Homo sapiens: one gene and its partners. The protein of the gene in region 1 interacts with the protein of each later gene in a pairwise test. Each region holds a gene or a part of one and is shown in the gene's direction. Other genes may lie near its edges. The genes, in order: GLP1R, CYSTM1, CFI, EMP2, NUCKS1, TSPAN13 and SLC31A2.

The links.
Region 2: the proteins of GLP1R (region 1) and CYSTM1 interact in a protein complementation assay, tested with the Homo sapiens proteins (one study listed by BioGRID).
Region 3: the proteins of GLP1R (region 1) and CFI interact in a protein complementation assay, tested with the Homo sapiens proteins (one study listed by BioGRID).
Region 4: the proteins of GLP1R (region 1) and EMP2 interact in a protein complementation assay, tested with the Homo sapiens proteins (one study listed by BioGRID).
Region 5: the proteins of GLP1R (region 1) and NUCKS1 interact in a protein complementation assay, tested with the Homo sapiens proteins (one study listed by BioGRID).
Region 6: the proteins of GLP1R (region 1) and TSPAN13 interact in a protein complementation assay, tested with the Homo sapiens proteins (one study listed by BioGRID).
Region 7: the proteins of GLP1R (region 1) and SLC31A2 interact in a protein complementation assay, tested with the Homo sapiens proteins (one study listed by BioGRID).

The regions. Positions count from the first base shown.
Region 1 is NC_000006.12:39,051,594-39,055,708, forward strand, and holds part of GLP1R (glucagon-like peptide 1 receptor precursor), read left to right. Parts: intron 1-4,115.
Region 2 is NC_000005.10:140,191,977-140,196,091, forward strand, and holds part of CYSTM1 (cysteine-rich and transmembrane domain-containing protein 1), read left to right. Parts: intron 1-2,469; 5' UTR 2,470-2,489; coding exon 2,490-2,676; intron 2,677-4,115.
Region 3 is NC_000004.12:109,767,287-109,771,401, reverse strand, and holds part of CFI (complement factor I isoform 2 preproprotein), read left to right. Parts: intron 1-4,115. UniProt on the Homo sapiens protein: Trypsin-like serine protease that plays an essential role in regulating the immune response by controlling all complement pathways.
Region 4 is NC_000016.10:10,570,437-10,574,551, reverse strand, and holds part of EMP2 (epithelial membrane protein 2), read left to right. Parts: intron 1-4,115. UniProt on the Homo sapiens protein: Functions as a key regulator of cell membrane composition by regulating protein surface expression. Also, plays a role in regulation of processes including cell migration, cell proliferation, cell contraction and cell adhesion.
Region 5 is NC_000001.11:205,718,964-205,723,078, reverse strand, and holds part of NUCKS1 (nuclear ubiquitous casein and cyclin-dependent kinase substrate 1), read left to right. Parts: intron 1-2,425; coding exon 2,426-2,578; intron 2,579-3,402; coding exon 3,403-3,552; intron 3,553-4,115.
Region 6 is NC_000007.14:16,777,685-16,781,799, forward strand, and holds part of TSPAN13 (tetraspanin-13), read left to right. Parts: intron 1-113; coding exon 114-227; intron 228-1,318; coding exon 1,319-1,432; intron 1,433-2,663; exon of another isoform or gene 2,664-4,099; intron 4,100-4,115.
Region 7 is NC_000009.12:113,153,827-113,157,941, forward strand, and holds part of SLC31A2 (protein SLC31A2), read left to right. Parts: intron 1-3,900; coding exon 3,901-3,967; intron 3,968-4,115. UniProt on the Homo sapiens protein: Does not function as a copper(1+) importer in vivo. However, in vitro functions as a low-affinity copper(1+) importer.

The DNA.
Region 1 (4,115 bases):
GCTTCCTCAGCTGCAGCCTGCCCCTAGGAAAATTCCTATGTGTGTGTGGTGGTGGTGGTGGTTGGAGGAGGGGACAGAGATACAGACAGGTAGTCTGAGACAGACCAGGGGGAGAAGGGAGTAGGCTATATGAACCCCCAGTTCCCAGGTATGTGTGAGTGACCCTGTGTGTAACAGTCTGTGTGGGAATGAGTCCCTGTGTGTGCAACATCTCAGCATGCAACTGTACATCTGACAGTGTCTATGTTTTTGTGACCCTGCATATGATACTGTGTCTGTGGGAGGGTCTGTGTGTGTGTGTGGGGGGGGGGGCATCTTGGTGTGTGAATGGGTGTCAACTAGTGTGTGTCTATATGTGCAGGAGAGATAGTGTGCATGTGAGAGTGTCTGTGTGTTCCTCTGTGTGTGTGTGTTGGGGACAGTGTCTCAGCATGCGACTGTGTACCTGGCAGTCTGTGAGTGATTGTGTGTGGTGGGAGAGAGTCTGTGTCAGTGTCTCAGTATTGGGAATGTGCTTGGGGGCGTGTGTGATGATGCGTGTGACCGTGTGTCCACGTGGGGGTTTTTGTGACTGTAAGAACATGTGTGTAGTATTCCTTTTCCTGTCCTTTCGTTCAGATATCTAAAGCCCTTAGGGAAAAAAAATGGATTGTAAGCTCTGAGCTTTTGAAAAAAAAGAAAGAAAGAAAGAAAAACAAGGGGCGGTCAAAGAGACAGGGGTCTGTTGATGGAAGGGGTGATTTGACTTCTGGGAGGTGACACAGAGGAAGGAGGTTGGGGTCCTGGGAGGAGATGCCAGGGAACCTGAAGGGCTGGACTTAGTTGGGGGACTCCAGAAATTTGAGTTGGAATCCCTCCTTCCTCCTTCTGAGAGGCCTTCCTGCATGTCTCCCACCTCTGTGCCACCTCCTTCCCGTCACCAAAATGGTCCCCAGAGAAAGAAAGAATCTGATACACTTATTCGCACTGAGAAATAGGAGTGCCTTTCAGATTGGCAGCCAGTGTTTGGAGAGGGAGCCCCTTCCTGGGGTGTTGGAAAGCCCACCACCCCGGGGGCTTCCACTCCACCTGCTTCCTTCTCTGCTGTCCTTCCTTCCAACGCTGCCTGCTTGTACAGGGCTTGAGAAGTCACAAAGATTTTCACCTGCTTTATCTTGTTGGATCTGTGCAGTTTGAGAAGAATGATATGCCCATTTTATGGACGGCAGAACTGGCAACTGATGAGGAAACTGAGGTCCTAAAAGATAAATCGTGTCCCACAGTCCTGCATTAACAGAGCTGGGATTTAGACCAAGAACTTATAAATCGCTGTCCAGTGCTCCTTCCTGTAGACCACACCACTCCCTCCTGGTGTCCTCTTTCCTGTCTCCTGCTTCCTCCAAAAACTCCTGAATCTGAGGGATGCCCCTTCCTTCTTGTAACCTCCAACCCAGGTGTCGTCTCCACGTGCCTTCATCCACCTCAGAGAGATCCCATGAAGCCTGTCAAGTCTTGATTCTAGAAACTGCCATCCTGCCCTTCCCATGGCCCTTTAGACCCCCTCTGACCGCTGCTTTGCTCTCCTGGTCAGCTCTGCTGCCTTGTGAGGGACAGGGACATCTGGATTGCATCCTTCCCGCTACCCAGAACCCACAGCCCCACCTTGTCAGGCTTGCAGCAGGGACTTATGTTGTGGGAGGATGAAATGGAGGAGTGGGGGACACTGGTGGGCAGGGCCTTGCCCCTCCTCACAGGGCATGGGGTCCAAAGCTTCCTCCCTGCTTCACTTTGCCATTGGCTGTGGTTACTGCTGGAAGATCTCACAAATTAAGCAGAATGATTGGTCATTGGACATGAACATATATTCATTTCCTCTTTCTGGGAATATGTTGATCCTAGAAGTGAGGAAGGGGTGGGGCCCCAGTCCCCAGGAAGCCTGGTCACTCCCTCCCACTCTGCCCTTTCCACTAAACAGTAGAAATCATGGGGATTGCTGCCATTGACTGAGCCTTCTCCATGTGCCCACCATCCTAAGCATTAACTCAGTCCCCACAGCCATCCCATGGGGGAGGGGCTGCTGTTCCCTTTTGCACAAGTGTAAGCTGAGCCTAAAACATACAACTCTTGCACTCGGTTGCAAACCTAATATCTGGGTGACCCAGGTCCAGGCCCAGATCTGAGCCCAAGGCCAGGGTTGTTCAGCCTCCACTATGTTACCTGGGCACCCAGGCCCTATGGCACTGGGTGGCCCTAGCCTCATTTACTCAGTCTTTCCCCAGACCAGAACCTCCCATCTGTCCCAGGGCCCACCACCACTCTCTCCCTGCCCCAAAAAATCCTCCTGATAACAGTCCACAGCTCTCCTCTGCTCTCCGGAGCACTGATGTCCCCACCTTTGTACCTTTTCCCTGCTGTGCCCTCCTGCTGAAGTGCCCGCCCTCCTCCTTGCTAGCCCAGTCTGCCTCCAACCCCCTTCACCCCAGCCCCACCTCACAGTCCCCAATCCCTCAGGCCTCTTGAGTCTGCACTGAACCCTGCCCCAACCACTCCCTGAACACTTTCACCCACTGCCTTCCCTGTTATGTCACTTGTCCTGTAAAGCATTGACCCCCGAGTAGCCTGAAGACTCTCTCAGGCAGGGCTCCTGCAGTCACCTTTATACTCCCTGCATTCCCCTCCACCCACGACCACCCAGAACCTGGCACAGTTATGGTTTCTGTAAATACGAGGCGTGGGAGAGGCCAGAAGTCTGGGTAGTTTGCACTGTGTGTGCCTGCAGGGGTGGGATGAAGGCTCGAAGGTATTTAGAAGCCCTGATCTGGTGTAGGGAGGGGACAAGATACTCTTACTGTCAGGAATCCCTCACCTAAGGGGGAGCCACAGCCCCATCCTCAGGAAGCTCCAGTCTGAGGGGAGACACAGCCCCGTCCTCAGGGAGCCCCAGTCTGAATATAGTTTTATGTCCACAGCTCTGCTCAGAGTAGGTGACAGCGCTGCCCTGGGGTGCAGGAGGCCAGATTGGCCTTCATGGCGCTGTCGTTAACCCCTCCCCCCGCCTCTGGGAAGAACTGGCTTCCATACCTCTCTGCCTGCCCCAGACACACCTTCTGCCCCAGTTCCCAGCAGTGACCTTGTGTGTGGTCTGCTTTCATTCTAGAAACAGAAACCAAGGGGGATTTCTCCGTCTCTCTGCCCTCCACCCCCAGCAGCTGCTGCATTTAGGGGCAGCATGGAAGAGCCCTTTACCCGGAGAAGAGGGAAGAAGTGAGAAGGGAAACGGGGCGGTGGGGGTTGATCCACCAGGACTTGCTCTGATGAAAACTGTGCCACCTCCTCAGCTGTGGCTAATATCATGGACAACACCTTTGCAGCTGTTATGTTTGATTTCTTGTTCTTTTTTTCCCCAAGCAAATACAGTTGACCTTTGCCCTCAGAAGAGCTCTGTCCTTCAGGGTAGCCCCTGCCGCCTTGGCACACTTATGCCAAGGATGCTGCTGGGGCTTAAAGTGAGCTGGGCCCTTCCATGGGGCCTCCGAGGCAGCAAGGGGTGAGCAAGGCAACCCAAGTCTCTCAGGGAGGTGTGTGATAAGCCAGCTAGAACCCGAGACTGGATCCAGCATGTGCCCAGCACGCTACAAGGCAAGGGGGCAAGCTTCTAAAAAGAAGCTATTTTAATTTCAGCACACGTGGACATTTTTGTGATTTCAAAAAGCAAAATGTTGTTTTAAATTATGTATGGGTCCTACATTTTATACATGGGGCTCTTGGGTCATTTCAGCATCTGCAGCCTCTGAAGGACGAATATTTATAATTTTTAAGGCTGTTCAGGAAAAAACTAAAAAGAACGACAACCCCAAGACATAGCTGAAGGAAGTGCACAAAAACACTCAGAAGGAATGGTGGATTCTCAGTGGGATGGGTCTGTTTGGGTCTGTGTGCTGAAAAGCCATTTCGGTGACCTCACTGGAAGTGGAGGCTCAGCTCTCCCTACTCACAGGTGAGAGGGATCCCTCCCATTGCACGTGTGACTTCAGTGTTCTGGAACCTCCCTGACCCCTTCACCTCATGTCCTCAGGACTCTTCCTTTGGGTGGATAGAAGCTGGGTTGAATATTAGATTTGGTTGCTGTGTCAGAG
Region 2 (4,115 bases), on another chromosome or scaffold:
GGTCAGGGTGTGTTGCCAGTTGCAGACCAGAGCGCAGAGAAGGGAAAGAACTCTACTTTTTTCCTGAGTCCCTTTCAGGCCCTGGAAAAATAAGATGGTGTCAAAAATGGGAGGCAATACAGATGTGGTTGAAATAGAGACCCTCAAGCCATTTGATCCCATAACATAGAGTTTCAATTTATAATCAACTCCTTCAAATGACACTCTCTTGATCAGCACCTCCTTCTACTAGGTTTAAGCGCCTACTCCTACCCAGCAGTCTGTTTACCACATTTTCTAAAAATCATTTTCCTTATGTTTGTTTCAGCCAGTTGCACAAGGGTAGGGTTTGAGGCATATTGATCTCTATACCCCACTACTTAGCCCAGTGTCAAGAAAGCACTTAATAAATGTATGTTTGTGAATGTCACCCAGAAGGGTTCATTACCTTACCTTACCATTGGTTTCCAGGACTGGAAATTCGATAGAGGTAGTTTAGGTTAGGCCAGGCTTTAGTCTTTGATTTAGGAGCTGTTATAAAGTCATCTGGAATCCCATTTCTTTCCTTTTTTCTGCTCTGCCTTTCTGAATGGCCCACTTAATCTTAAAACTGGCTCCTTCTCAGGGCTGCAGATTGGCTGTCAGCAATTTTGTAGGCCAATCTTTCCTAGACTTTGTGTATACCTTTGTACAGGGGAAGGGAAGGTTCGGTGGGAGTGTGTTAAGAGAGTCTGAGCTTTTTACTGATTGAACCACTTCAGAACCAGTCCCAGTGGCCAGGGAGTGCCATTTGCATCTGGGTAAAGTCCTGAATTCCTTGAATCAATCATGATAAAAAAGTGGAGAGAGTGACCCCGATTGGCTTAGATAGACTGGGTTCACCCTGGAGCTGGATGGGATGAGCTTTCCCTGAAGCACATGAACTACAGGAAGAATGAGCAGAGATCTACCTGGAAACCTGACTCCTGTTAGGAAGGGAGAATATGGATGTTGTGTGGGCAACCATCAAAGTCCACTGCTACTGTAATCCAGATTTTCTAGGGAACCTAGACTATTTATAACTATTCTGTCCTTTATATAATAAAGTCACTTAGGAATTTGTTGATTGCCTGTTATGGAAAAGAATTAATAGTGAAATTATTACATTTTGAATCTGAGACTCTTCCCTACTATTTGGTTGGGGATAGAAGACACTCAAATAGGTAAAAAGTTAACTATTGATGTAAGATATGGGTAACAGTACAAGGCAGCAGTATGACAGATGATATGTTAAGTGAGTCATCCTTAGAGTTTATACTTTGCATTCCCCAGTAATTGTTTGTTTGTTTGTTTGTTTGTTTGTTTTTGAGACGGAGTCTCACTTTGTTGCCCAGGCTGGAGTGCAGTGGCACGATCTCAGCTCATTGCAACCTCTACCTCCCAAGTTCAAGCGATTCTCCTGCCTCAGCCTCCTGAGTAGCGGGACTACAAGCACATGCCACCATGCCCGGCTAATTTTTTGTATTTTTAGTAGAGACGGGGTTTCACCATGTTAGCCAGGATGGTCTCAATCTCAACGTGATCCGCCCGCCTCGGCCTCCCAAAGTGCTGGGATTACAGGCATGAGCCACCACACCTGGCCATTTGTTTGTTTTTAATCTGAAAGTCACCGTGCCAGGCACTGTGGAACTTAAAGAGATAATAGAAACAAGACGCTGGCCCTGAAAACTTCAAGCCCAATCAAGAGAATGATTAACAGGCTTGGGGGCTGGGAAGCGTGGCTTCCCTCACAGAAGCAAACCATGGAGGACAGGGTCCTGTAAACACAAATAAATGTTCCTGGTGAGCCCTCCAGAGTCTCAGGGGCCTGGATGGGCAGAGGAGACGCTTGGCATTCTCTATAAACAGCGCTGTCCAACTGCTCAGAGCAGCGGGTCTGGGGAGAACAACCAGATCACCCCAATCCCCAGAGCAATGGTGATGGTTACAAACTTTGGTTGGTCATTGCTGCCAGTGCTGCTCGTTAGAAGGCCCCACTGTGGCCCAGCCCTGTTGATTGGAGGGTTTCTAGTAGTGGATCAGCGTCCACTGATGAGACTCATAGTGCTGTTAGAACACTTTCTTAAAGCTATCCAATCACATTTATGGACACTTCAGAGGAATTAAAAAACAAAATATCTTGCTATTCATTTAACACATTTATTTAGGGGACTGCCTTGTACCAGGCACTCTGCAGTGCTCTAGGGACATGGTGGTGATCCAAAACTTACTTGATATCTACTGTCACAGCCTACAGTCTAGTGGAGGAAATAGACAAAAGGCAAATAAATATATAAGATAATTGCCAATTATAGTGATGGTGAGAAGGAAACAAAATGGGCAGAGCTAGAGATTTGCACAAGGCTTGATACACCTTGAAGGTATTTTGTAAATGATCTTATGGGTTAGGATTTTATTCCTGATGATTTCCACAGTTAAATGCAAATAATTTTCATTCTTTTTGTCTCTTAGGTGCACTTTACAGGTCCCCGATGAACCAAGAGAACCCTCCACCATATCCAGGCCCTGGTCCAACGGCCCCATACCCACCTTATCCACCACAACCAATGGGTCCAGGACCTATGGGGGGACCCTACCCACCTCCTCAAGGGTACCCCTACCAAGGATACCCACAGTACGGCTGGCAGGGTGGACCTCAGGAGCCTCCTAAAACCACAGGTGTGTGTCTCTGAATATGTGGGTGTGCAGTCCCGTGTCACTAAAGGAAATGTTTGCATGTTTTCTTTGGCAGAGAAGAAATTCTTTCCAGCCTTTGCAACTTGTGCTTGATGTCCCCAAAGCTTGATGATGGCTTAGGGTGGATTCTCACTCCTGAGAAGAGGCCCAAGTCAGCTCTGCCTGCTACATTCACACCTCTTGTCCCCTCTGGGGCTGATGACTTCCTGGCCAACGTGTTTTCTGAGGGCTACCCTCTAGAGCACTTGGGGGTGGGGAAGGAATTAGCAGTTGAGTCTTTGCTCTGTAGCCAGCTTTGTATTTTAGGTTTAGTAATTAGCCTCTTGAGTTTATTTTATCTGTCAGCTTGTTGACCCTCAAGTCATCCTCTTGCCCCTGCTACTGGGGTTTTTCTTTTTTTTCTTACTAAATGTTTTCATAATTCTATTTAACCTGCCAGTTGAGTTTTCAGGAGGCTCTTGAGTCCTTCTTGTGTGCTATAGAACAGTGTTACTCAAAGTTCAGTCTGTAGACAAATGCCAGTCAATGAACAGTGAACAGTTATGGACTATATTATATGTACAGAAAGTGAGAGTAAACATTTAGAAACTTTTAGAGCAATTTGGTTTTGCTGTGACATCCAAGTATGTAATCTTGCATTTTACAGAAAGTATCAGTCTGAAAGATTAAAAGTAAAACATCTTGAGGAGCACTGTGCTAGATGTCTTGGTCACTATTTTGTAGCCCTTTGGTTGGCAGAATAGCTGCTCTCTTAATTAGCCCTTTCAGCTTTTTTTTTTTTTTTTTTTTGAGACGGAGTCTCACTCTGTTGCCCAGGCTGAAGTGCAGTGGCGCGATCTCGGCTCACTGCAAGCTCCGCCTCCTGGGTTCACGCCGTTCTCCTGCCTCAGCCTCCTGAGTAACTAGGACTACAGGCGCCTGCCACCACGCCCGGCTAATTTTTTGTATTTTTAGCAGAGACTGTGTTAGCCAGGATGGTCTCAATCTCCTGACCTCGTGATCCGCCCCCCTTGGCCTTCCAAAGTGCTGGGATTACAGGCGTGAGCCACTGTGCCTGGCCAAGATAGCTAATTCTTAAAAAGTGCTTATTATGGCCAGGCACAGTGGCTCATGCCTGTAATCCCAGCACTTTGGGAGGCCAAGGCGGGCAGATCACCTGAGGTCAGGAGTTCAAGACCAGCCTGGCCAACATGGTGAAACCCCGTCTCTACTAAAAATACAAAAACTAGCCAGGCGTGGTGGTACGCGTCTATAGTCCCAGCTACTCAGGAGGCTGAGGCAGGAGAATGGCTTGAACCTGGGAGGCAGAGGTTGCTGTGAGCCAAGGTCACACCATGCACTCTAGCCTGGCGACAGTGAGACTCCATCTCAAAAAAAAAAAAAGTGCTTATTGTGTGTCACATGGTCTCCTAAGTGCTTTA
Region 3 (4,115 bases), on another chromosome or scaffold:
TATTTTTAGTAGAGATGGGGTTTCATCATGTTGGCCAGAATGGTCTCGAACTGCTGACCTCAGGCAATCTGCCTGCCTCAGCATCCCAAAGTGCTGGGATGATAGGCATGAGCCACCATGCACAGCCTGCCTGGCTAATTTTTTTTATTTATTTTTTATTTTTTTTGTATTTTGAGTAGAGTTGGGGTTTCACCATGCTGGCCTGGCTGGTCTCGAACTCCTGACCTCATGATCCGCTGGCCTCAGCCTCCCAAAGTGCTGGGATTACAGGAATGAGCCACTGCGCCTGGCCCTAATCTTCTACTTCCCTACTGAAAGCATAAGGACATCAGATCTTACTTAAAATGAAAAGCACTCCTATCACCCGTCTCCCACCCCTAACTCTCTCTCCAGGGGCAAGCACTTTCAAATCTTTGCTGTTTCTTCTGCTGTTTACAACAGATTCCTCAGTAACATGTTCATACAACCATCTCTTTCAACCAGTTCCCTGTTTGTTAGCCACTCCTTCTTCAGAGGTACTAGGTCCCCCAGTTCCTAAGCTTTTCTGGGGTTCTGTGGGGCTTAGCTTTCAGTTCTCCTTGATCTGCTAAATCCATTAGCACTAGCCCATCTGTTTTCCAGCTTCCAACATTTTGATATCTTATATCCTGCAGTCCTCTCCCCACTCTCTTTGACCTTATGGTTTATGCCCTTTAAAAAAATTCCTGTATTCTCAATTTAACAGAGCTTGGAGAGGAGACAGAGACTTTCTTTTTTTTTTTTTTTTTTCTGGTCTGTGTTCATATTTTCATGTCTAAATGGCAAAACCAGTAAAGCGGTTTCTTTTTTTTTCTTTTTTTTTTTTTAGAGATGGAGTCTCGCTCTGTCATCCAGGTTGGAGTGCAGTGGTGCGGTCTCCGCTCACTGCAAACTCCACCTCCCGGGTTCAAGTGATTCTCCTACCTCAGCCTCCTGAGGAGCTGGGATTACAGGTGCCATCATGCCTGGCTAATTTTTGTATTTTTAGTAGAGATGGGGTTTTGCCATGTTAGCCAGGTTGGTCTCAAACTCCCGACCTCAACTGATCCTCCCACCTCAGCCTCCCAAAGTGCTGGGATTACAGGCGTGAGCCACTGTGCCTAGTCAAAACCAGTCAAGCTTCTACTTCCACTTCCTCACCTCCCATTCCAGCCTCAACTCACCAATGTGTGGTTTCCCATTTCCTTAAAGTTTCAGTTTAATTACATGCCACTTAGCATAAGTGACTCCATTTTGGTTTGGTCTTTGGGGCTTGGTGCAGGAGTACAGTTTAAAAAAATGGCTTCCCGTAATTTTATGTAACAGAGTGAGGTAGCGTTTTCCCTTCCATCTCCCACCTGCACCCCAGGCAAAGAGGATGGAAGGTGCTGCCGCTTCTCTTCATTGTGAAAGGGCTTCCCACAGGTTCCCTTGGAGTGCTTGACATGTGTTCCCTGAAGTCTGAGGAGAAAAAAGAACTAGTACTTGACCCATACCTGAAAGGAATAAGGACCCAAGGCTGGAGGTGCCTGGTGGCAGAGATAAAAGAGGTGGCTGTGTTGGAGCAAGCCCTGTTTCAATGGTAGGCAGCAGGGCAGGCAACAGACAGGTGTGGGTCCTCAGGAGGGAAACAGGACTCCTGCCCAAGAGGCTCCCTGCCAAAGGTAAGCAACCTCAGCAGAAACGGGCTAGTACTGTTGGATACTGGAGCTGAGAAGACATGGACCATGAGCAGCCAGCTGGAGGAGAGGTACTGCCAGCATTGAGTGAATTGACATCAAATGTCCCCAGTAGTGCAATCTCTAGAGAACCTCATAGTACCCCGCATGAGAGAGTTGGCTCTAACCCCCACCTTGCCAAGGCTAGTTCTCAGCCGTAAGAATCAGGTGAGACCCGGCTGCTGTCCCTCTCTTCCTCTCCTGAGAGGTGGAAAGCATGACCTGAAAGCTGTGGAATGGAGGAGAGCTCAGAAAGGACCCATCACACACCCTGGAAGCAAGTCTGAGCTGAGAGGAAGGAGAGGCTTTCATCTGACATGAAGGTCAGAGCTTCAGTGGTTCCACAGCACTAGACATTGTCATTGCTATTTAGTGACTATTCCTGGAACTAAACATCCTTTAATTTTTTGTTTTTGTTTAAATCTAAGAGTGACTGAGAAAGTTATGACACTTGCCAAAGTTTCTATCCAAAGATCAAGGAGGAATGAGATTTCAGAAATGATTTAAAGGAATAAAGGTAGAAAAAAATCAAGTTGCTTGGATTTCTCATCCAATGAGAGCATCATTGTTTCAATATAAAGGTGATAAATAAAACCTGCTGTCAGGACACTTGCAAGCTGGTCAGTGGAAGATACAGGAGAGAAATTATTACAAAAATTCCAACTCTAATAAGTGCCAAAAAGAGATACGTGGAACCATGAAAAGTGCGTAACTGGCATATTTCATTCTAGATCACTGTGTCAAAAGCCAGTTTCCAGAATGACCAATTTGTCATTTGTGTGTGTGTGTGTGTAAAGCTATTTGTACAGTTTATTGAAAAGCAAATTATGGAGAATGACTTTGACAATCCTTGCAAGGTTTTGCATGGTTTTAATTAGCTTATTTGCCTTCTTAACGGCATTTAAAGACTATGATTTTTGTCTGCCCCAGCTTGATGCTTCACAGCTACAGGGCACTGAGGAAGGAGCGGGGCTCACTGCGGGCAGCAGGGGAGACTAGAGGACAGGAGGCGCATCCTCAGGAGGAAGCTCTGGGGGACAGGGAGACAGCATTGGCTTTTCTTCGCAGATTGGCTTTTGGCCCAATTGGCCTGTTCCCAGCCCTCATATTATTTCTACTGGAGTCCTGCAGGGTAATAATAGCTCTCATTAATTTTATGCCTAGTACCTGTCAACCATTACAAACATAGTATTTCTAATCTTGCAAAATAGGAGATATTATCTCATTTTACGATGAGGAAATTCACGTTTCAGGAGGGTCACTTGCCCTGCATCATGTAACAGTAAGTGCCAAAACTGGGTCTAGAAGCCAGGTTTGTCTGATTCTTTTTTTCTTTTTTTTTTTTTTTTTTTAGGATTTCTTCATGGTCAAGATGGCAGTCATACCATTCTTTTTTTTTTTTTTTTTTGTACTTTAAGTTTTAGGTGCATGTGCACAATGTGCAGGTTAGTTACATATGCATACACGTGCCATGTTGGTGTGCTGCACCCAGTAACTCGTCATTTAACATTAGGTATATCTCCAAATGCTATCCTTCCCCCCTCCCCCCACCCCACAACAGGCCCCAGTGTGTGATGTTCCCCTTCCTGTGTCCATGTGTTCTCATTGTTCAATTCCCACCTATGAGTGAGACGATGTGGTGTTTGGTTTTTTGTCCTTGCAATAGTTTGCTGAGAATGATGGTTTCCAGCTTCATCCATGTCCCTACAAAGGACATGAACTCATCATTTTTTATGGCTGCATAGTATTCCATGGTGTATATATGCCACATTTTCTTAATCTGGTCTATCATTGATGGACATTTGGGTTGGTTCCAAGTCTTTGCTATTGTGAATAGTGCCGCAATAAACATACGTGTGCATGTGTCTTTATAGCAGCATGATTTATAATCCTTTGGGTATATGCCCAGTAATGGGATGGCTGGGTCAAATGGTATTTCTAGTTCTAGATCCCTGAGGAATCGCCACACTGACTTCCACAATGGTTGAACTAGTTTACAGTCCCACCAACAGTGTAAAAGTGTTCCTATTGCTCCACATCCTCTCCAGCACCTGTTATTTCCCGACTTTTTAATGATCGCCATTCTAACTGGTGTGAGATGGTATCTCATTGTGGTTTTGATTTGCATTTCTCTGATGGCCAGTGATGATGAGCATTTTTTCATGTGTCTTTTGGCTGCATAAATGTCTTCTTTTGAGAAATGTCTGTTCATATCCTTTGCCCACTTTTTGATGGGGTTGTTTGTTTTTTTCTTGTAAATTTGTTTGAGTTCATTGTAGATTCTGGATATTAGCCCTTTGTCAGATGAGTAGATTGCAAAAATTTTCTCCCATTCTGTGGGTTGCCTATTCACTCTGATGGTGGTTTCTTTTGCTGTGCAGAAGCTCTTTAGTTTAATTA
Region 4 (4,115 bases), on another chromosome or scaffold:
AAAGAAAAGGCAGAGATTGCGAGCAGGGACCCTGCTGGAGGAGCAGTGGGTGCATGGTTTGTCTTCAGTGCTGAGTGTATGAAGGGAGGGAGATGGAGCAGGGAGGGATGAGGGGGGGCCACAGTGTGAAGTGGGCTTCCCTTCCACATCCCCAAGAACCTGGCTAAGGAGGCAGGCGTGAGGATGCTCACGGAGCATTATTGGAATAGAATATCCAATGATAGGTGAGAAATAGAGAAAAGGAAAAGTGGAAGCAACCTAAATATCCATCAGCCATTTTGCAGAGTATTTTACTGCAGTTAAAAAGAACAAGGGGCCGGGCGCAGTAGCTCACGCCTCTAATCCCAGCACTTTGGGAGGCCAAGGCAGGCAGATCACTTGAGTTCAGGAGTTCAAGATCAGCCTGGCCAATATAGTGAAACCCCATCTCTACCAAAAATACAAAAATTAGTTGGGCTTGGTGGTGTGCACCTGTAATCCCAGCTACTTGGGAGGCTGAGGCACAAGAATCGCTTGAACCCAGGAGATGGGGGTGGCAGTGAGCCGAGATCATGCCACTGCACTCCAGCCTGGGTGACAGAGCAAGACTCTGTCTCAAAAAAAAAAAAAAAAAAAAAAAAAGGTTTATCCATTGTACCCATATGGAAAGAGCTTTATGGCATTACTGAGTTTAAAAAAAGAACAACCAGGAGAAGTATATGTGGAAAAGTGTATTATTCATATAAACATAAACAGAAATTCTTGTTGTATTTTCTGTGGCCTCACATGTTTATACGAGGAACAATGTCTGGAAGGAGACATCGGAGTAGGTCCATGTGGTTGTCTCTGATGGGGTGGTAGGGAAGGAACTGGATTGAAAGGATACAATCTTATCTCAAGCCTTATCTGTAACCAAGAGAGTATCTTCAGGAATTACTGACTTCAATAATAATGCCCTCATTTTCCCTGAGCTTGGTAAGCAATGGAGGTTGTGCAGGTGTGAGGATGGGGAGAGATGATGCCTTTGGCTGTGGGGGGTCAGAGACTCCATGGATGGACCAGTTAGGGACTGTTTTGAAAATCCAGAGACAAGGAAATGATGACCAGTGTGAGCAGGTGTCATCCAGTCCACATGGAGCATCCCCCTTGGAACATCACATTGCAGATGCCAATGAACATAATGTGTTTCCAGTCTGGATGCTGTTCATGGGGGTTAACCGTGGCCAGGTGTGGTGGCTCAGGCCTGTAATTTTAGAATTTTGGGAGGGTTAGGCAGGAGGATTGCTTGAGCACAGGAGTTTTGAGACCAGCCTGGGCAACATAATGAGACCCTGTCTCTACAAAAAAATAGCAAAATTAGCCAGGCATGGTGACACACACCTGTAGCCCCAGCTGCTCTGAAGGCTGAGGTGGGAGGATCGCTTGAGTCCAGGAGTTTGAGGCTGCAGTGAGCTGAGATTGTGCCACTGCACCCTAGCCTGGGTGACAGAGCAAGACCCCATCTCTTAAAATAAAAACAAAAAAAGCCAAAATAAACCCATGCTGACCACTCCCTTTCACTGTGAAGTGAGGGTTCTGTTTCTCTCATAGAACTGATGGAGGAGATGCTTTGGGGTCCCAGTTGTCTTATAGTGGACATTTGTCTTTGGAATGGGGATGGGAGCTTCTCTAACTCATCACAGTTTTCCAGCCTTGAGGTCCTCATCCGTCCCAGAATGAGTGCTTAGTAACTGTGGCATGAATAACATGGTGTCTGCTGAGGGGTGACAGGTGCATTCTGAAGACAGTAGGCAGATGCCAGTGGGATCAGAGAATTGGATTGCGGGGTGCTACAGGTGGGCTGTGTACAGACATGTGGAGGGTCGAGGAGGTGCTATTTGGAAACTAACTCCCAGGCTGTGACATTTATTCTGGAGATAATCCTTAATACCTGAACTTGGGAGTTCTGTGACAGGTCATCTATCCTGATTTATTCCTCACGTGTTCATTCTAATATTTATTGGCCGCTTACTATGTGCCGGGTAGTGAACAAAGATGGACTCGGCCCCTGTAATGGAATTTATCTAGCAGTGGATGGAAGATCATCTGTGGGAGGGTCAAGAGAAACCTAAATCTTTTTTTTTTTTGAGACAGGATCTCGCTGGGTCACCCAGGCTGGAGTGTAGTGGTGCAGTCACAGCTCACGGCAGCCGCGAACACCTGGGCTCAAGTGATCCTCTGTCCTCAGCCTCCTGAGTAGCTGGGACCACAGGTGCACCCAGCTAATTTTTAAATTTTTTGTAGAGACTGGGGTCTTGCTTTGTCACCCAGGCAGCTCTCGAATTCCTGGCCTCAAGTGATCCTCCCTCCTCAGCCTCCCAAAGTGCTGGGATTACAGGCATGAACCACTGTGCCCAGCTGCAACCTAAATCTTTTAAGGGTCTTTGCCCTTGTCTGTCTAGGGTACAGAAGAAAAATGAAAAATTCCCTCTTTCTCCTGCTCCCTCATTGACTTTTTTGAATATATTTAGATCATCAGGTGATATGATGTTTTGAGTAAAATGTGGCCAGGGAGCCTTGAGTCCTCTCTCTTATTAATGTGGAAAGTGCCTTGAAATTCAGATGGATGGTCATGAGCCCTAAAGCCCAGGGCCTAGAGCCCAGGAGAGGCTGACAGCAGTGGACCAGGCTGGTGTTTGAGCCAACAGTGGTGGCCTCTCAGTATACACCACTACCGCCCATCACTGGCTTACAGTGGAAGCCTGGAGCAGTCCTCTGTCTCTTCATGCAAACCTTCAGTCCTTCTGGAATCCATCCCCTCTCTTCATCTCAGTGGCTTCTATCTTGGTCCAGACCGCTGCCATCTTTTGCCTTGACAATTGCACAAGCTCCATGACCTGTATCCCTGCAGCCACTATGGCCTTGCAGTCCGTTTCCCATACGTATCCAGAAGGATCTGATAGAGACACAAAGCTGACCAAGTCACTCTTCCCCTGCCCCACTTAAAATTCTTCAGTAGTTTCAACTGCTCCTAAGCAAAAACCAGGCCTTACATGATCTGACTCAGAGGTCCTTGGCTGACTGACCTTCCGAATCTCCTGGGGAATCTGGATAGAATGCTGATTTCCTGTCCCCACCTGAAAGTAATGATATCAGAATCTCTGGAGGCAGGGGCCAGGGCACAGGGGTTTAAGGTGCCCCCAGTGTGGTTGGTGGTGAGACGTACTGGTCTAACCCCTTCTCTGGACTCATCACTCTCCCCTGTTGCTTTCTCCTCTAGCCCACTCTTTTTTCTTAGTTCCTGCAACTCTTTTTTTTTTTTTTTTTTTTTTTTTTTTGAGACGGAGTCTTGCTCTGTCACCAGGCTGGAGTGCAGTGGCGCGATCTCAGCTCACTGCAGCCGCCGACTCCCTGGTTCAAGCGATTCTCCTGCCTAAGCCTCCAAAGTAGCTGGGACTACAGGTGCACACCACCACGCCCAGCTAATTTTTGTATTTTTAGTAGAGGCAGGGTTTCACCGTGTTGGCCAGGCTGGTTTCTATCTCTTGACCTCATGATCCACCCGCCTCAGCCTCCCAAAGTGCTGGGATTACAGGCATGAGCCACCGGCCCCTGCCAGTTCCTGCAACTCTTAATCCTCTCTCACCACTGCTTCTACCTGCTCTTTCCCTCGCCCTTCTTCTTCTTCCACATTGCCTTCCTCTTTCTGTCCAGCTAATTCTTTATCCTTTAAGACCTTTAAGACTCATACCAGGCCAGGCATGGTGGCTCATGCCTATAATCCCAGCACTTTGGAAGGCCGAGGCAGGAGGATCGCTTCAGGCCAGGAGTTTGAGACCAGCCTGGGCAACATAGTGAGACCCCATCTCTACAAAAAAATAAAATAAAAATTAGCCAGCCAGATGTGGTAGCTCATGCCTGTAATCCCAGCACTTTGGGAGGCCGAGGTGGGTGGATCACTTGAAGTTAGGAGTTCGAGACCAGCCTGGCCAATGTAAAGAAACCCTGTTTCTACTAAAAATACAAAAATTAGCCAGGTGTGGTGGCACATGCCTGTAGTCCCAGCTACTTGGGAGGCTGAGGCAGGAGAATTGCTTGAATTCAAGAGGCAGACGTGACGGTGAGTTGAGATCACGCCACTGCATTCAAGCTCTGGG
Region 5 (4,115 bases), on another chromosome or scaffold:
GGTGATCCTGTGATAATAGAGTATATGCTTTCAGTCATTTGCCTTGTAAATCCTAGTTTGAATCTCTTACACTTGCTAGTTTATTGAGCACTTCTAGATAAATAACTCTGTACTAGTATTAAGCTAAGCTTCTACCAAGTGGGTTTAGTTTTGGGTCGGCCATGTCAGCTTTATTCTGTTTGTCTCTAGATGAGATTTTTAAAAGTGAAAGAGATGACTTGAACACTGACTATGGCAAGGCTCATGGGACTAGAAGTGTTTTCAGAAAAGGGCTGTAGGTAGAGACTAAGGCAAATATGGTTTAGTCTAGAGGCAGTAGGCTGGCAGCCTACCCTTTAACCAAATTTATTCACAAACACAACTGTGTGTTAAAAAAATTTTTTTTAGGCTGAGCATGGTGGCTCCCACCCGCCATCCCAGCACTTTGGGAGGCCAAGGTGGGTGGATCACCTGAGGTCAAGGGTTCAAGACCAGCCTGGCCAACATGGCAAAACCCTGTCTCTATCAAAAATACAAAAATTTGGCTGAGCCCGGTGGCTCATGCCTGTAATCCCAGCACTTTGGGAGGCCAAGGCAGGTGGATCACCTGAGGTCAGGAGTTCGAGACCAGCCTGGCCAACATGGCAAAACTCCTTCTCTACTAAAAATAAAAAAATTAGCCGGGTGTGGTGGTGGGTGCCTGTAATCCCAGCTACTCGGGAGGCCGAGGCAGGAGAATCACTTGAACCTGGGAGGCAGAGGTTGCAGTGAGCTGAGATCCCACTGTTGTACTCCAGCCTAAGCAAGAAGAGCAAAACTCCATCTCAAAAAACAAACAAGCAAACAACAACAAGAAATTAGCCGGGCATGGCTGCATGTGCCTGGAGTCCTAGCTACTCGGGAGGATGAGACAGGAGAATAGCTTGAACCCAGGAGGCACAGGCTGCAATGAGCCAAGATTGCACCACTGCACTCCAATCTGGGCGACAGAGTGAGACTCCAAATTAAAAAAAAAAAAATTTTTTTTTCATTAATAGACTCTAAGAATATGTGAAAGTAAATTTTTTATAGGCTTCTCCAAATGTCTTTCACTAATTAATCTAAATATGTATTTTAAAGATTTTCCAGCTGGGCGCAGTGGCTCACGCCTGTAATTCCAGCACTTTGGGAGGCCAAGGAGGGTGGATCACCTGAGGTCGGGAGTTCGAGACCAGCCTGACCAACATGGTGAAACCCTGTCTCTACTAAAAATACAAAATTAGCCAGGAGTGGTGGTGCGCACCTGTAATCCCAGCTACTCGGGAGGGTGAGGCAGGAGAATCGCTTGAACCTGGGAGGTGAGGTTGCAGTGAGGCGAGATTGCGCTATATTGCACTCCAGCCTGGGCAACAAGAGCAAAACTCCATCTCAAAAAAAAAAAAAAGGTTTTCCACAATCCCCTCTAAATTGAAATGGTCACAAGCCATTCATTGTAAAGGGTAACAGTTTGACATTATTTTAGGGTTTTCGTGTTTTATGTCTTAGAATAAAGATTATTGGAAGACATTCTTTCTCTCTCATACTATGTTAAGATATTTTTCTAACTTTAGCTTTCAAAAACAGTGAACATAGATTTGAATGTAATTGAGAATTGTAGAGCAAAGCAATGATGTAACTTTAAAGTATAGGAGTCATGTATTCACGCTTTAATTCAGCTTGTCTACTGCTTAAAATTACATTCCCTTGTTACTTTATATGTAATAGTGGTTACATAGTCTTGTCCAAGTTCATTCTTTGTGAATTTAGGTCCCCTTTATACATTTTGTAGAATTTTTTTTTTTTTTATGTTGTGGGATACATGTGCAGGATGTGCAGGTTTGTTACATACGTAAATGTGTGCCATGGTGATTTGCTGCACCCATCAACCCATCACCTAGGTATTAAGCCCAGCATGCATTAGCTAATTTTTAATGCTCTCCCTCTCCATCCCCCCACCCTGCCCCCTCCCTCGCCACAGGCCCCAGTGTGTGTTGTTCCCCTCCCTGTGTCCATGTGTTCTCATTGTTCAGCTCCCACTTATAAGCGAGAACATGGCAGTGTTTGGTCTTTTGTGCCTGCATTAGTTTGCTGAGGATAATGGCCTCCAGCTCCATCCATGTCCCTGCAAAGAGCATGATCTCCTTCCCTTTTTATGGCTGCATAGTATTCCATGGTGTGTATGTACCACATTTTCTTTATCCAGTCTATCATTGATGGGCATTTGAGTTGATTCCATCATTTTGCAGAAATGTTGAAGGATAGAATTTGCCCTTTTACAATGAAATAAAGCTGCAGATTATATCCTATATTGGCCACTGTGTTGGCCTTTTCAGTCAGTTATGTTTTCAGTCAATTATTAATCTTTTGCACTATCTTGTCAAATATAAAATTCTTTAATCATTATATCATGGTAATTCTGATATTGCAGAGGATAGTGAAGATGAAAAAGAAGATCATAAAAATGTGCGCCAACAACGGCAGGCGGCATCTAAAGCAGCTTCTAAACAGAGAGAGATGCTCATGGAAGATGTGGGCAGTGAGGAAGAACAAGAAGAGGAGGATGAGGCACCATTCCAGGAGAGTATGTGAAGTTGTTTTGTGTACTTTGGTTGTTTGGTCATAATTGTAGTTTGTGACCTTGGTTACTTTGGCATTTTCTAGGATGCTAAATGTTACAACCAGTCCCTTAAATTGGGTAGATACTCCGTGTTAAAAGAGATGACTGTATTGGTTCCTGTTAATATTTTTAAAGGTTCAGAGATTCTCACGATTGCCCACCATTTGTAATGGTTGCACCCTTTATTTAATGATGTCTGTGTTCAAACACTGAATGAACAATTTGCTTAAGTAACAGTCACATTAGGCATTGTGATTGAGATTTGTATTTTGCCCTGGTGGAGGAGGTTGTAGACCTCTTTTCACAGAAAAAAACATGTTAATAATAAAATTTAGGTGTTTCACAGGTTATTCAGATTAGTTAATCCTATGTATTTTTGTTTTGTGTTTGGTTTTCTTGTTTCACTTATTCATAATTGGACCAAAAAGGCCCTGTCAGTTCAGTTTTGTTTCCCTGGTCTCAACCAGTACTACTTGGAAGTGATGGAACTACCAAAAGTTATTTGATAGTTTCAGTTTTTATTCAGATTAACTCTTACCCTTCCTGTTTTCAATCTACTTTTCAAACACATCACTCATGTAACTCTCTCATGTAAGGTGCATGCAAAATCCATTTGACAAATGAGGCCAGTGATGACTCCAGTCAAATTGGTAGTACAGCTCCAAATAGAATCCAAGGGTGTTTGACTCCCAAATCCCATCCTCTAGTCATTCTTAGCACTCTCTTCCTTTTTTACTTGGAAGGATGTGTACATTAAGTTAGATGTTGAAATTCTTCTTTCTTCTCAGAAGATTCCGGCAGCGATGAAGATTTCCTAATGGAAGATGATGACGATAGTGACTATGGCAGTTCGAAAAAGAAAAACAAAAAGATGGTTAAGAAGTCCAAACCTGAAAGAAAAGAAAAGAAAATGCCCAAACCCAGACTAAAGGCTACAGGTAATTTCTGCAGAAGTGAAATTAAATTTACTGCTTTAAAAATTTTGAGAATCATTATTTTCAATACAGAAATTCCTCATTAGGATTTGGCATTGGCCTGATGTTTAGCAGGAATACAAGAAATCTAAAAGGGTCTTGTATTCTGCAACTGGAAGTATCTCTTATTAATAAAGACACTAGCCTGTTTAAGAGTCTAGTGGGCTTAGCCATGTTCTTCAACTACTGCCAGTACTTGAGCAAGATTTCAGAATGATCTATTTGTTTCAGACACAGTGGTAGAAACACTGTGTCATCATAGTTGTTACTGCTCTTTTTTCCTCACTGGTATCACAGTCTCAGCAGCCAGCAAAGACTTAATTGTGAAAATGCACAAACCTAGAGTAATACGTTTAAGTTCCACGTTCTGAACTCTACCCCATCCTCTGTGCTATCAGAATAAAACCACACTTGATGACATGAGTTGATTTTTTTCTGAGCCCTAATGGTTTCTCCTCGTTGGAGCTAGTTTGTTAACTAAATCAGAAATCAATTTGCTTTTTGTGTAGGTGGTTTTATTCTGTTAG
Region 6 (4,115 bases), on another chromosome or scaffold:
GATTTTTAAAATAAAAATTATTTTAGGTACACTTAGTACTAAAAGTTACAGGCTCCAGCTTTATACATTTTCTGCAGGGATGACACATTTTATATATTAAACACATTTACTAGGGTCAGCTTCTGGAGGTTGGTTGGAACAATACGGCAAGTGCTCGAAATGACATCCAGAGAAATCTAAACTGCTGTGGGTTCCGAAGTGTTAACCCAAATGACACCTGTCTGGCTGTAAGTACATTGTATAATATATGTTTTTGGAAATGTATTACAGATAAATAATGATTAATGTGGAAGAAATGGACTTTCTGATGCTGAATTGTATTTTCAGGATTATTTTATGTATATATTTACATTATATTTCCATGTCCTCTGTTATATCATTTGCCTGTTCTCAAATACCCACTCCAGAGAGTGTTGAGAATTTCAAGGCCCTATTGGACACAGATGCTAATGGTTTATTGTCCCTAATTTCTTCCCATCCTTCTCTTCCTAGAACAAGTTGTGAAAGAAATAATAGTACGTCAGTTCATGTGTTCATATTTTGGGGAAACTCCTGTTATCACATCTCTGAGCCCTAAGCTGAATATTTCCTCAGTGAGGCTTCTTTTGTGAGATTATCTCCTTGTAGGGGGTCTGTGTTATGTTTCTGTTGCTGCGTAACACATTATTACACAGCAATAGAAACACACTGGCTTTAAATATCCATTTAGTGGCTTTAAATACCCATTTATTATCTCACAGTTTCCCTGGGTCAGGCTTGGCTGGGTCCTTTGCTCACCTGGCTGAAATCAAGGTGTCATCTGAGGCTGCAGCCTCATCTGAAGCTTGGGGTCCTCTCCCCACGCTCAGTGGTTGTTGGAAGAATTCAGTCTTTGTGGCTGTGGGACCACCCCTGTTTTTTTGCTGCCTGTTGGCTGGAGGTCTCTCTCTGCAACTAGAAGCTGCTCTCAGGTCCTATGTTACTCTTTCACAATGTGGCAGCATCAAAGTCACTGTGAGAATCTCTCCATTCTGTTAAGATGGAGTCTTTTGTAATGCGTAATGGAGTCTTATCTGATGTAAGGTAACATGGAAGTGACTGTCCTATCATATTCACAAGTTCCACGCATACTCAAGAGCAGTGATTGTATAGGGTGTGTACACCATTGAGAGGGGAGGGTGGGAGTCTTGGGGGCTGTGTTAGAGATTTGCACACTAAAAAACCAAGGCCTCAAATTGGATATAATACTCTTAGACACTAATTTTGTGTGTATGCAGTTTTTATGGGCTTTTTATAAATGTATTTTGAAATAAAGGTTTTTTTACTTTAATTGGTGCAGAGCTGTGTTAAAAGTGACCACTCGTGCTCGCCATGTGCTCCAATCATAGGAGAATATGCTGGAGAGGTTTTGAGATTTGTTGGTGGCATTGGCCTGTTCTTCAGTTTTACAGAGGTATGTGCAAATAACAATATTTTTCCTCCTTTGTCACAGAGATTCCTGTTTTGCATGACAAAGGGCCTTGATTCTTGTTATCAGTGAGCATTTTCATTGAGAACTAGCACTGTAAAAAGAGGAAACTTGGTTTAGAATCAGAAGATCTTACAAGTCTATTAATAGCACCAACTTTAGGACCGGGTGAAAGGCTTGATCTGTCTCTTCTTATGTAAAATTTAATGAACTAATGAGTGAGATTAGATTGAATTATCTCTAGGGTCTCTTCTATTTCTACAGTTGTGTGATGAATTATAATTTTAAATTTAATTTGGAAAAGGTAGGACATTCACATTGTTTAATATGTATGTTAATGTCTATAATACACAGACATACATATATAAAAAGATTATATATCTTTTTATATATATCTTGAAAAATTGCCTTCCTACACCATTTTTCATTCCCCTGTTCCTAGCCTTCTAAAACCTATGCATAATGTCTATATGTGTATAATGTATTGTGTATAATATGCAATTAATATATAGTACAATATTTATGTATGTGTATTTATCATATATTTTATTCAAGTTCAGTTTCTTTTTTTCTCATCAAGAATGAAATATGTACATTTGGCTGTCATTAACAGCATAGGAAAAAAAAAGACCAAGATTAATATTCTTTTTTTTTTTTTGAGATGGAGTCTTGCTCTGTCACCCAGGCTGGAGTGCAGTGGCACAATCTTGGCTCACTGCAAGCTCCGCCTCCCGGGTTCACGCTATTCTCCTGTCTCAGCCTCCTGAGTAGCTGGGACTACAGGCGCCCGCCACCACGCCCAGCTAATTTTTTGTATTTTTAGTAGAGACGGGGTTTCACCATGTTAGCCAGGACGGTCTGGATCTCCTGACCTCGTGATCTGCCCACCTCGGCCTCCCAAAGTGCTGGGATTACAGGCATGAGCCACCGTGCCTGGCCTAGTATTCATTTTTTATTTTTATTTATTTATTTTATTTATTTATTTTGAGACAGAGTCTTGCTCTGTTGCTTAGGCTGGAGTGTAGTGGTGCAATCTCGGCTTACTGCAAGCTCCACCTCTTGGGTTCAAGCGATTCTCCCACCTCAGCCTCCCGAGTAGCTGGGGTTACAGGCATGCACCACTACACCCAGCTAATTTTTGTATTTTTAGTAGAGACAGGGTTTCACCATGTTGGCCAGGCTGGTCTGGAACCCCTGGCCTCAAGTGATCTGCCAACCTCAACCTCACAAAGTGCTGGGGTTACAGGTGTGAGTCATTGCACCTGGCCCAATATTCATTTTTTTAAAGTTCCTTCTGACTTCCCTCTTTAGTCTGACCATTTTTTCATTTCACTGTTTCTCAGAAAAGAGCTATCTGACTTGTGAGTTGGTTGTGACATTAATTCTAGAAAAATGATATACAGCTTGACAAGAATTCTGTGCATTTCTCTCTTCTTTTGTTTAAAAACCATAGATTTTTGTTATGAAAACTTAAAAATACAGATAGAGAAAAACTGGAGTAATTTCTCTCTACACATCAGCTAGAGTCAGCAGTTATCAGAATTTTGCCACGTGGCTTCTTTTTTATATCTGGAATTTATTTTGAGAATTTAGTTCTTTTGAGCAGCCCAGTTTTCTTGTCATCAGATCACACTGCCTTCAGTTATGCTATTTTTTAAGTAGGAGTTCTTTAAAAATAGAACTCATGAGTCTTAGATTTCTAAAGTGTTCTTTCATGGAATCCTGCTTTATATCTTACATACTGTCTCCTTTGGAAATCTGGCTAGAGATTTTTATAACTTATGCAACCTGGTTTTTTAGATAGTGATAGTGGTAGGCTCTCACTTTTTAAGTTTATATTTTGCTCAATATTCACAGAATCACAGATTCTCAGAATTTGAAGGGATGCAGTTACTTAGCTGACAACTTCTTCTCATAGGTGAAATAGAAAGATTTGATTTGAACTATTTATTATACCTTTAAACAAACCTAAACCATGAGAGAAACATTGATTTAGAATCTGAAAAAAGCTATGATTAATATATGTTCTTTGTAGTAACTTGAGAAACTACAAAAAATTATGAAGATGAAAAATTAGACGTAGCTACTAAAATTACCTACTCAGAAACAATCATTTATATTGTGGCATATTTCCTTCTGCCCGTTCTATATTTAGTAAAATGAGTACCAGCTTATTGCATATTCTACATGTACTTTATTTTTCTACATACATTTTCATGTTATGAGCAATATATTTTGGTGACCTACTGCACACTGAGTGTAGGTTCTAGAGACCGCAGAGTTGATGACATCTAATCAAAGTTACCTTTGAAAAGTGCCCTCTTAATCATGAGCACTTTTGTAAGCTTGAAGTTCAATAATTATCCAGTTTTGATCTTTTTGCATTTTGGATGTAGCCTTCCTTTCTATCCCTCTCTGAACAGTCGGGCAAGGAAGGGGAGAGATTTTCCCCTTTTGGCGCTTATAGCCAAGTTGGAGGAATACAATTCTGGTAAAATGTGGCTCCGGATTATGAGTATTTAGTTTGTTTGATTGCTTTCTTCCCCCAAGGACTGTGATTTACCCTCTCAGCATATATCCAGGGGTGATAGTCAAAATGTTAACATCCTCAAAAATTCTGACCAGAAGCTCCCTGTGCTGAAAATTTCCAAGGTGGGGAGCTTTGGCA
Region 7 (4,115 bases), on another chromosome or scaffold:
ACTGAAAGGCATGTTAGCTGAGTGTAGGGAGTAGAACAGCCAGGTTAGTCCCAGGTCTCTACCAAACCCCAGGCTGCAGCGTCCAAATCTGAGAGATGCATAGATGTGGTGCCCCATCCAACCCGGAAACAGAGGCACACTCACTGTTATTGTTGTTGTTTTTGAGACAGAGTCTTACTCTATTACTCAGGCTGGAGTGCAGTGGCATGATCTTGGCTCACTGCAACCTCCACCTCCCGGGCTCAAGTGATCCTCCCACCTCAGCACCTCCCAAGTAGCTGGGACTACAGGCACATGCCACCACACCCAACTAATTTTTGTATTTTTTGTAGAGACAGGGTTTTGCCATGTTGCCCAGGCTAGCACTTTTTTCTTTTACAAGGTTTCAGGAAGAGTAGATAGAGTTCAAGATGGGAGCCTGTGAAAGTGAGGCCAAACCAAGGGAAAGGGTTCCTAGAGTCCTGTCCTCATCTTACAGACGAGGAGACTGGGTCCACAGGGGGCTTTCTGCGTGTCAGCAGCTCAAGGCCACGCAGCTGGTTCCTGGCAGAGCTGGGAGGGAGATCCAGGCAGTGCAGCTTTAGAGACCGTGCCCCTAACCACTAGCCTTGCTGCCTCTGTTCAAACTGCAACAAAGTGAACTGAGCCTCAGAATCTCCTGAAGGGGGCTGGTTAAAATCTATGTCTTCCCTGTCTCCTGTGGCTCTGACCCTGGACTCTGATTTAGGGGCCTGAGGAGGCCCAGGAATCTGTACTTTTAATAAGGCCCTGGAGTCTAAGCAGCTGCTGCTGTCCCTCTACACTAAGCCGCTTGCCAGTGTGGAGCTCATGATTGGCCTGTGGTTTCCCAGTGATTCACCCGGGACTGACTCTGCCTCTGTGGATCCGGCTATAACAGCATCGTCATCCACACCTGTGATCCGCTCCAGTGTCCTCCCTCCCACCCTATCCTCTTTGCCTTTTCATCCTGTTGTCCGCTGTTGTCCCTGGGCTCTGGTCTTACTGTCCCATCCCCAGACTGGTCCTTGTTTGTTTCCTTTATTTAAGGTGCACTCTTCATCTTTCTCAGGAAATATGGGCCAGCTATTGGCTGAACATCCTTCGGGGGCTAAGCATGACTATCCTAATTGCACAGAGGCTTTTTCTCATACATTCCTTCCTCTCCCCAATTTCTTCCCATATTTTGTTCCAAAGTGGCCATATCAGTTTCTTCTGCTGTTTGCATATCTTCCTGAAATGTTAAAACAACCGAACGACAGCACAGCCCTCATCTCTGTCTAGTATTGCACAAGAAAGTGGGCTGTTCTCTGTGTTGTAGCATCTGTTTTCCTCTTGCCAAATGAGGGCCTGGTAAGAAGACCCAGGATCCAGTCCTGATGCTGCCACCAACTCACAGTGTGACCCTGGGCATGTCACAGCTGCCCCTTGGACTTCCAGTGCTGCCCTGAGAAGCTGCATTGAGAGCAGTTAGGAGCACAGAATCTGAAACCAGCCCACCCAGGCAAAATTCTAGCTAGCAACTTGGCAAGTTACTTAAACTCTGTCTGCCTTAGTAGTCTCATCTATGAAATGGAGCTAAGAATAATAATTCCCCTCTTGAAATTGAGTGAGTTAAGACATATAACATTTTTAGAAGAGTGCCTGGCACAGAATAATCAGTGTCATTTCCCTCCCAGCATGAAAAAAGAGGGTTGCTCTAAATTAGCACTTCCTAGAGGATAGTCTATGAGATTCTTTCCCACAGGGCACTCAGCAAGAGAAAAAGGGGAGGAGAGAGTTCTGGGTACAGGCTTCTGGCAGTGCAGAAAGCTATTAAACCTTATTTTGTCTAATTCCAGTCTCTCTCAAACTCCCTTGACCATAGAATCCATTTTTCCCAGTACCTCCTAGCATCCTGTACTTCTCCCATGGAACACTTCTGAGAAACACCCCTCCAGCTTTGACATGTATGGGAAAAAAAGGCACTGGGGTTATTGAGCCCTTACTGTGTGTCACTTTGTGTGGATGGCTTTGCAGAGTTTTCCCCCAGCTCCCCTCGGAGGAAACTGAGGCCAGAGAGAGGCCCTGGTTAACAAATGTGTTTTGTTCCAAATCCTGGACTCAGACTACTATTCTTTACTATCTCCTTTGGTCCTAACTGTTGAGAGGGGGAGGATTGGAGACGACTAGAACATGCAAGGCCTGTGGTTTAGGGCTGTCGTCTGCAAGCAGAAGTTTGTGGCTCTGGTTTCCAGGAGGCTACAGGACACCCACATGGCACAGCTTCCTGACAAAATGGCAGCTAATCAAATCTGCCTACCTTTCCACCCCCACACTGACGTTTGCCTCCACCGGAACTCCTTTTCTGTAAGAACTGATGGCCCCCACAGCCTTCACAAGTACCCACAGTCTCACTCCATATCTTCCTCCCTTGAACAGAAACTGAGAGTAACCCGCTTATAAGGAGGTCCGGCAAATCCTTTTCCCTCTTCATACTCATTTTCCTCACCTGGAAATGAGAGGGGGTGGAGAGGGACTCAAGTTGGGCCAGATCAGCATTTTTCAAACTGAGTTTCATCAGAGCTCATATTTCTCTCCCCTCTCCACCCTGAGCCCCGTGTTTTACATAATGGAATTAGAAGAAAGATTTTAATTGGCTGGTGTTCCCTGGTGAAGAAAGCTGAAAGCCATGGGACTAAAAACTCTGAGGATACCTCTAGTGCTGAGATTCAAGGATTCTAATATTTGGCCATTGTCTTAGAAGGCAAAGGCTTCCACTAGCTGATTACAACTCAGCCAGGATCTCCTTAGCTGGGTAACACTGACAGTGTTTGCAGAACTGCTTGTGCTAGCTGAGGGCTTACCTGGGGACCAGAGGGGGCCTTCACTTCCCTGAGAGGGTGAACTAACTGATAGATCTGTTGGGCCCTCATCTTTCCAAACAGTCATTAAGCCTGGTGTGGGCGTCTGAACTCACCATCCAGCTCCCACTGTACCCTCCTTTCTTGGAGATTGGGAGGAAGCACCGTGTCCTGGAATGTCCAGGGCTTTGGAATCCAGCTAGACTCAGGTTTGAATCCCAGCTCTGCCAACTTACTAGCTTTGTGACCACCAGTAAATTACTTCTCTAAGTCTAGTTTCCCTAACTTTCCTTCCTGTAAAATGGACCTAATTGTCCCTGTCACACAGAGGACTGTTGTGACAATGAAATGAGATGATGTAGAAAAAGCCCTTGATGCCACCCTGAACACAAGGTGGAGCAAGCACCCTCTGAAAAGGCATCTGACAGGCACTGCATGGTCACTGCTTTTACCTGCAGTCTTTCCTGTAAGGCTGTGAACTCACCAAGGTCAGAGACATTAACCTACTTCCATAATGCTTGGCACACAAACTGGGCTCAGCAAATGTATAGTGAATGAGTAGGCAGATGTGGAGTACAGTGAAGACAGCTGCCTCTGGGCCCCTCCACGATAAACACTGTGGGATCTGTCTAGACTGAACAGGACAAAGAGGACTCCAGGCTTCCATCACACGGGAGCCTGTTCTGGAGCTGCAGCAGAATGGCTAGGGTCCCGGGGGGGTAAGAAGAGGCAGTTGCACTTGGAAGGCATGGAGGGGACATCCCCACATAGTCTGAGGACACTGTCACATCCCGAGCCAGTTGGTCCAGTGAGGATGGACACTCCCACACCTCTATTCTCATATGGAGCATGGCCAGCTCAATTATAGCTCTGCTGCTGACCCTCTTGGGCAAGTCTCAGCTCTTTATGGCCTCAGTTGGCCCTGATGACTTCTGATGGCCCTTCCAGCACTTCCAGTGACCCCATTTTTCTGGGCTCCCAGAGGAGGTGCTGGAGAGCATTAAGGACCGTAACTTCCACTGCCCTGTGCCCCTATGATGCAGATTCCTTTCTCTTTCAGATGCATTTCATCTTCTCAGATACAGCGGTGCTTCTGTTTGATTTCTGGAGTGTCCACAGTCCTGCTGGTAAGAATTGGGGACCTCAGACTTGTAGCTTGGAAAGCCTTGTAGTACTAGGCAAGGGAGAATCTGGGTTCTCTTGATTCTCTGTGGGCATTTAAGTGAGGCTGATTCCTCTGGCATAAACACTGAGCAGGAACTTCACAGTTATAAT